Homo sapiens: one gene and its partner. The protein of the gene in region 2 purifies or fractionates together with the protein of the main gene of each other region. This does not show direct contact. Each region holds a gene or a part of one and is shown on either strand. Other genes may lie near its edges.

What was found. The genes of interacting proteins can lie anywhere in the genome.
Region 1: the proteins of WDR12 (region 2) and CHMP7 fractionate together in Homo sapiens (co-fractionation; one large-scale study listed by BioGRID). This does not show direct contact.

What each region holds. Positions count from the first base shown.
Region 1 is NC_000008.11:23,242,158-23,246,436, reverse strand, and holds the start of CHMP7 (charged multivesicular body protein 7), read right to left. Parts: upstream 2,801-4,279; 5' UTR 2,593-2,800; intron 182-2,592; 5' UTR 1-181. UniProt on the Homo sapiens protein: ESCRT-III-like protein required to recruit the ESCRT-III complex to the nuclear envelope (NE) during late anaphase. Together with SPAST, the ESCRT-III complex promotes NE sealing and mitotic spindle disassembly during late anaphase.
Region 2 is NC_000002.12:202,901,674-202,905,173, reverse strand, and holds part of WDR12 (ribosome biogenesis protein WDR12), read left to right. Parts: intron 1-3,500.

The sequences.
Region 1 (4,279 bases), on a different chromosome or scaffold from region 2:
CCGAAAGAAAGGCTTGCGCCTGCGCGGCAGGTGGCTGCACCTTACGTCTCCTTCAAGATTCTGGAGTTCGGCAAAGCGTTGTACAGCGGCTTCTGACCTGTGGCTTCAGAAAATGGAACTGGGGAATAGCCGCAGAGGGGCGCCAGTGGTGCCCGGACCACCCGGATGGATCCGTGAATCTCTGTATAGAGGGAAATTTATATCAATGAATGCACAAACCAGAAAAGAAGAAAGATCTAAAATAACCTAAGATTCCACCTTGGGAATCTATAAAAGAAGAACAAATTAAGATCAAATTAAACAGAAGAGAAAAAATAATAAAAAGAGCAGAAATCAATGAAATTGAAAACAAACTCAAAAGATTATCAACAAAACCTAAAGCTGATTTTTTGAAAAGGTCAATGAAATTGATTAACCTCTAGCCTGGCTAACAAAGAGAAAAAACAAATACTCAATATCAGAAATGAAATAAGGGACATTACTGCAGATCCCATGGGCATGAAAATGATAATAAAGGAATACTATGAATAACTGTATGTCCACAAATTTGATAACCTAGACGAAATGGACACATTTCTTGAAAGCACACTCTGCCAAAACACACAAGAGGAAACAGACCACTTGAATATGTTTATATCTAATTAATTGAATCAATAATTAACAACATCCACACAGAAAGCATTAGGCCCAGATGGTTTCATTTGATAAGTTCTACCAAATATTTAAGAAAAAAGTTGTACCAGTTCTGTGCCATCTCTTTTATAAGATAGAAACAAAAGGAATACTTCCCAACTGATCCTATGAGGCAAGGATTACCCTAACGCCAAAACCACACAAAGACATTACAAGAAAGAAAAAACACAAAACAATATATCTTGTGAATATAGATGCAAAAATCATCAATAGAATGTTAGCAAATTGAAACCCACAATGTATCAAAAGAATTGTACACCAGGTTAAAGCGGAATTTATTACAGCTAGGCAAGGCTAGTTCAATGTTCAAAAATCAATTAATATAATCCACCAACAGACTAAAGAAAAATCATATGATCATATTGCTAGATGCAGAAAAAGCATTTGACAAAATCCAACACCAGCTCATGATAAAAAGTCTCGGCACTCTAGGAATAGAGGGACACATCCTCCACTTGATAAAGAACATAAACAGGAACCTTACAGCCAACATAAGAATTAATGGTGAAAACCTAGATCGTTTTCCAGTGGAATCAGGAATAACACAAGAATGTCTGCTCACACCATTCCTAGTCAACACTGTACGGGAAATCCTAGCTAACACAGTTAGCCAAGAAAAAGAAATAAAAGTTGTACAGACTGAAGAGGAAGAAATAAAATGGTCTGTCTTTATAGAAGACATAATTATCCATGCAGAAAATTATGAAAGAATTGCCAAATCGATGTCCTGGAACTAAGAGGCAATGAGAACAAGATTGCAGATACAAAGTTAATGTATAAAAGTCAATTCCCATATACCTATAATGATCAAGTGGAATATGAAATTAAAAATGCAATACCATTTACATTAGCACCCCCCTATAAAACTTAGGTATAAATCTAACACGGTATGTACAAATTCTACATAAGGAAAACTACAAAATTCTGATGAAAGAAATCTATGAAGGACTAAATAAATACAGAGGCATTTTATATTCATGGACAGGAAAACTCAATATTATCAAGATATCAATTCTTCCCAAATTGATCTGTAGATCCAGTGAAATCCCAGTGAAAATCATGGCTAGTTATTTTGTGGATATCAACAAACTAATTCTAAAGTTTATGTGGAAAGGCAAAAGACCCAGAAGAGCCAACACAATATTGAACAAATAAGTCAGAGGACGGATACAACCCAACTTCAAGAATTACTATAAATCAACAGTAATCAAGATAGTGTGGTATTAGTTAAAGAATAAACAAATAGATAAATGGAACAGAATAGGAATCCCAGAAATAGGCACATGTAAATACAGTCAACTGACCTTTCGAAAAAAGAAAGGCAATACAATGGTTCAAAGAGTCTTTTCAACAATGAGCACTGGAACAACTGTACACCTACATGCAAAAACAAAAACAAATCCAGGTACAGATCTTACACCATTCACAAAAGCCAGCTCAAATGGATCATGGACTTAAATGTAAAAACACAAAACAATAAAACTCCTAGAAGACAAAACATCTAGATGACCTTGGGCATCATGATTACTTTTTAGATACAACACAAAAAGCATAATCCATGAAAGAAATAATTGATAAATTAGACGTAATTATTATTATTATTATTATTTGCTTTCTGAAAGACACTGTGAAGAGAATGTGAAGATAAGCCACAGACTGGTAGAAACTATTTGCAAAAGACATCTCTGATAAAGGACTGTTATCCAAAACACACGAGGAACTCTTAAGACTCAAAAAAAAAAGAAAAAGAATAACCCAGTTAAAACATGGATAAAAGATCTGAGCAGACCTCTCACCAAAGAAGATCTACCAACGGCAAATAAGTATATGATAATATGCCCAACATCATATGTCATTGGGGAACAGCAAATTAGACAAGAATAGCATACTACTACACACCTATTAGAATGGTGAAAATCCAAAATACTGACCACACCAAATGCTGGTGAGGATGCAGAGCAACAGGAACTCTCATTCATTGCTGGTGGAAATGCAAACTGGTACAGCTACCGTAAGGTTGGCCAAGAGAAAAGACGAGTATACTCAAAGTCAGGCAAGCAAGTTTATTGACCTGCCGGCCTGCTGCATAACAGTCAGAGGAGGCAGCCCAGGGTGTTTAAGGTGAGGGACTTATATAGGGCTTTGAGGGCCTAGGGGCTTTCTGAGGTTAGTCTACATCCTGCAGTTGTTTGTCACTTCTTGCCCCACCTGGCTTAGAGTACCAGGATGTGGTTTGGCCTGGGGGTGGATACAGCTGTACCTAAGTTCTGGTAACGTGAAGTAGGGGCAGCATCTCAGAAGAAATAAGCTGCAGGGCATTTAGGGGAGGGGGCTTGCTGCGTTCTTCTGTGGACAGGTTGTCTCTAAGAGCTACTTTGGAAGACAGTTTGGTCGTTTTTCACAAAATTAAACATTCTCTTCCCATGCAAGTTTACTTATAGTTTAACTTTGAAACAAAGTATAACAGTCCTTTCCCAAAACAAAACTCCTTACTGCCTGTGGACTAGACTGCCTAGACTGCCACAAGATTAGAAGTTATGGTAATTTTACTAAATCAAGATGTAGCTATTTTCATTAAACCAGTATCAATGTCTTATTTATTAATGGTTACACGAGCAGAGATCATTCTGTCTTGGGCTGGGTTTATAGCCTGTGCCAAATTTTGACACCTAATAGTATTTGGCAGGGTTAAGTATGAAATTGCTTGATTAATAAACGCAAATAAAAATGTATGCTGGCAATTCCTAAGACATTTCTAATATTACTTTACCAATAATTTTAAAGATAGCTTATTTATTAAAGATTTTACTTAAGTCACATAACTTGAAAAAGCATTTGACTAGTCTTTCCTTTTTCTAATAAAGTATTTGATGTAAATGCTTTTATTTTTTAAGACAATTAATTAGAGCTCTTTGATATATTTTCAGGAGTGCAACATTGTATACATAACATATAAATACATAGATGTATTAGGCATGCTGATAGAAGAAGTACATCTTACAGATTCATAAAAACCTTTTTTCTTTATCTTAGACTTTCAGATTCTTGATAACCTGTTTCACAGTGCTAGGCAGTAGTCAGCTAAATAGTCTTAAATTTGCATATTAAAGGAAACAACTCAGGTGAAAGTCAGATAGCAAAATTTACATTATAAGGTCTGAAGAGAAATTCTGTGAGCTAGAGGGAAATTAAAACAGATTTAATTGCCAATTGAACATAAAATTATAGAAATTTATCACTGGATTGTATAAGGAGACCACTGTTATTTAGATAGGGACTACCAATTCTTTTTTAACTGGATCTCTGAGCTCTGGGCAGAGCCCACACTGAATCCTGGGTCTCCAAAAAGGGAGAATTATTATGAGGCTAGACCACATGATGCTTTTACAGTGCACTTAAAACATTTTTGTAAACAAAGCATTTCTAAGTGTCTAAACTATACTCTTTCTTAAAAACCCAAGAGTAGCCTCTGTTGCAATAACTATTTTAGTAAAAAAAAAAAAAAAAATCGAGTGGAAACAGAATTGAGTCAATTGAGAACAAAAAAAGTTTTTGCTCAAAAAAAGACAAGGTCCTAGCAGAGAAA
Region 2 (3,500 bases):
ACTCCGTCTTGGGAGGGGTGGGGAAAAACGCCATTTTATCTGGGGTGAAATGATATCTCATTGTAGTTTTGATTTGTATTTCACTGATGATCAGTGATGGTGAGCACCCTTTCATTTACCTGTTTGCCATTTGAATTTTCTTTTGAGAAATGTATGTTCAAACCTTTTGCCCAATTTTTAATCAGATTATTAAATTTTTACCTACAGAGCTTTTTGAGCTCCTTATATATTCTGGTTATTAATCCCTTGTCAGATGGGTAGTTGGCAAATAATTATTCCCATTCTGTGGGTTGTCTCTTCACTTTGTTAATTGTTTCCTTTGCTGTGCTTTTTAACCTGATGGGATCGCATTTGTCTATTTCTGCTTTGATTGCCTGTGCTTGTGTGGTATTACTCAAGAAATTTTTGCCCAGACCACTGCCCTGGGGAGTTTCCCCAATGTTTTCTTGTATTAGTTTCATAGTTCGAGGTCTTACAAATATTTAAGTCTTTAATCCCTTTTGTTTTGACTTTTGTATGTGGCAAGAGATAGGGGTCTAGTTTCATTTTTTTTGCATATGGATACCCAGTTTTTCCAGCACCATTATTGAAGAGACTGGCTGTTCCCCAGTGTAGGTTTGAGTTCACTGTAGATGTGTGGATTTGTTTTGGCTTCTCTATTCTGTTCCATTGGTGTATGTGTCTGTTTTTATGCCAGTACCATGCTGTTTTGGTTACTATAGCTCTGTAGTATAATTTGAAGTCAGGTAATGTGATTCCTCCAAGTTTGTTCTTTTTGCTTAAGGTAGCTTTGGCTATTCTGGTTCTTTTGTGGTTCCATGTAAATTTTAGGATTTTTTTTTTTCTGTGAAGAATGTCATTGGTATTTTGATAAGGATTGCATTGAATCTGTAGGTTGCTTTGGGTACTATGGACATTTTAACAATATTAAATTCTTCCAATCCATGATCCTGGAATATCTTTCCATTTTTTTGTGTCCTCTTCAATTTCTTTTTTTCTTTTTCTTTTCTTTTTTTTTTTTTTTTTTTTTTTTTTGAGACAGAGTTTCACTCTTGTTGCCCAGGTTGGAGTGCAATTGCGTAATCTCACCTCATGGCGACCTCCACCTCCCGGTTTCAAGCGATTCTCCTGCCTCAGCCTCCTGAGTAGCTGGGATTACAGGTGCCTGCCACCACGCCCAGCTAATTTTTGTATTTTTAGTACAGCCTTGGTTTCACCATGTTGGCCAGGCTGGTCACGAGCTCCTGACCTCAGGTGATCCACCCGTCTCAGCCTCCCAAAGTTCTGGGATTACAGGCATGAGCCACTGCACCCAGCCCTCTTCAATGTCTTTCATCGATGTTTTATAGTTTTTGTTGTAGAGATCTTTCACTTCTTTGGTTAATTCCTAGGTATTTTATTTGTGGCTACTGTAAGTAGAAATACTTTCTTGATTTCTTTTTCTGATTGTTCGCTGTTAGCATATAGAAATGCTACTGATTTTTGTATCATGCAACTTTACTGAATTTATCAGTCCTAATTGGTTTTTGGTAAAATAAAGATTATATCAAATATAACGTTATATCATTGATTTTTCCAAATATAAGATCAAATCATCTGCAAACAAGGATAATGTGACATCTTCCTCTCCAATTTGGATGCCCTTCCTCCCTCCCTCCCTCCCTCCCTCACTTCCTTCCTTCCTTCCTTCCTTCCTTCCTTCCTTCCTTCCTTCCTTCCTTCCTTCCATCTGATTGCTCTAGCTAGGACTTCCATTGCTGTGTTGAATAACAGTGGTAAAAGTGGGCATCCTTATCATGTTCCAGATGTTAGAGGAAAGGCTTTCAGTTTTTTCCCCATTTAGTATGGGGGTCTATTATATATGAATTTTATTATGTTGAAGTATGTTTTTCTATACCCAGTTTTTTGAGGGCTTTTATCATGAAAGGATGTTGAATTTTATCAAATGCTTTTTCAGCATCAATTGAAATGATCATATGCTTTTTGTCCTTCATTCTGTTGATATGATGTATATATTAGGGTTCTTTAGAGGGACAGGACTAATAGAATAGATGTATATATGAAAGAGAGATTTTTTGTTTTTTTGGTTTTTTTTGAGACGGAGTCTTGCTCTGTCGCCCAGGCTGGAGTGCAGTGGCACGATCTCGGCTCACTGCAACCTCCACCTCCCGGGTTCAAGCAATTCTCCTGCTTCAGCCTCCCGAGTAGCTGGGATTACAGGCGCGTGCCACCACACCCGGCTGGCTAATTTTTGTAGTTTTAGTAGAGACGGGGTTTCACCATGCTGGTCAGGCTGGTCTTGAACTCTTGGCCTCCCAAAGTACTGGGATTACAGGTGTGAGCCACTGCGCACAGCCGAGAGGGAGTTTATTAAGGAGTATTGACTCACACGATCACAAGATGAAGTCCTACGATAGGCTGTCTGCAAGATGAGGAGCAAGGAGGCCAGTCCGAGTCCCAAAACCTCAAAAGTAGGGAAGCCGGCAGTACAGCCTTCAGTCTATGGCCAAACACCTGAGAATCCCTGGCAAACCACTGGTCCAAGAATCCAAAAGCTGTAGAACTTGGAGTTCAATGTTTGAGGGCAGGAAGCACAGGAGTAAGATAAAGGCCTGAAGACTGATCCAGTCTAGTCCTTCCACATTCCTCTGCCTCCTTTTATCCTAGCCATGCTGGCAGCTGATTAGATGGTACCTACCCAGATAGAGGGTAGGTCTGCCTCTTCCATTCCACTGTCTCAAATGTTCATCTCGTTTGGCATCACCTTCACAGACACACCCAGGAACAATACTTTGCATCCTTCAATCCAATCAAGTTGACACTCAGTGTTAACCATCACAGTGTATTACATTGATTTGTGTATGTTGAACTATTCTTGCATCCCTGGGATAAATCTTACTTGGTCATGATGATCTTCTTAATGTGTTGTTGAATTTGGTTTGCAAGTATTTTGTTGAGGAAAGAATTATTCCTGTAAGAGAAGCTTTGCAATTCCAGTATGTTACCCAAATAGTTGGGTAACATTTTTCTAAACATATAGACCGAACATTATTCCTTCTGTATAGACTGTTACCATATTGCAACTCTGAAAGAAATGAATGTAAGTACAGTATTGGTTCTCAATAGCTGTTAATCCCGATAATTAGGTAAAAGACTGACAAGGAGCATTATGGTGGATAGAATCAGACTGATATAATCCAAGCCCTATGATGGGTCTTAATATCTTAAAAAGAGACACAACCAGAACCTATTTACATCCTGATGGGATGTAACAGGAAATAGACAATACTGCCTGTGAATATTCTTGTCAAAAAAAACCCAAAAAACCCTGAAATCTAACCAGGCATTTACCATTTACCTCTGACTAGTTTATAGGATATTTGTGTGATAAAGAAGCATGTTAAAGGACACCTTGGAGATGGAGTCAACAAAACCCAGAATGTTACAAAACAGATGACCCACTTTCATCAACAAATACATGGCAAGGAGAAAAAGGAGGA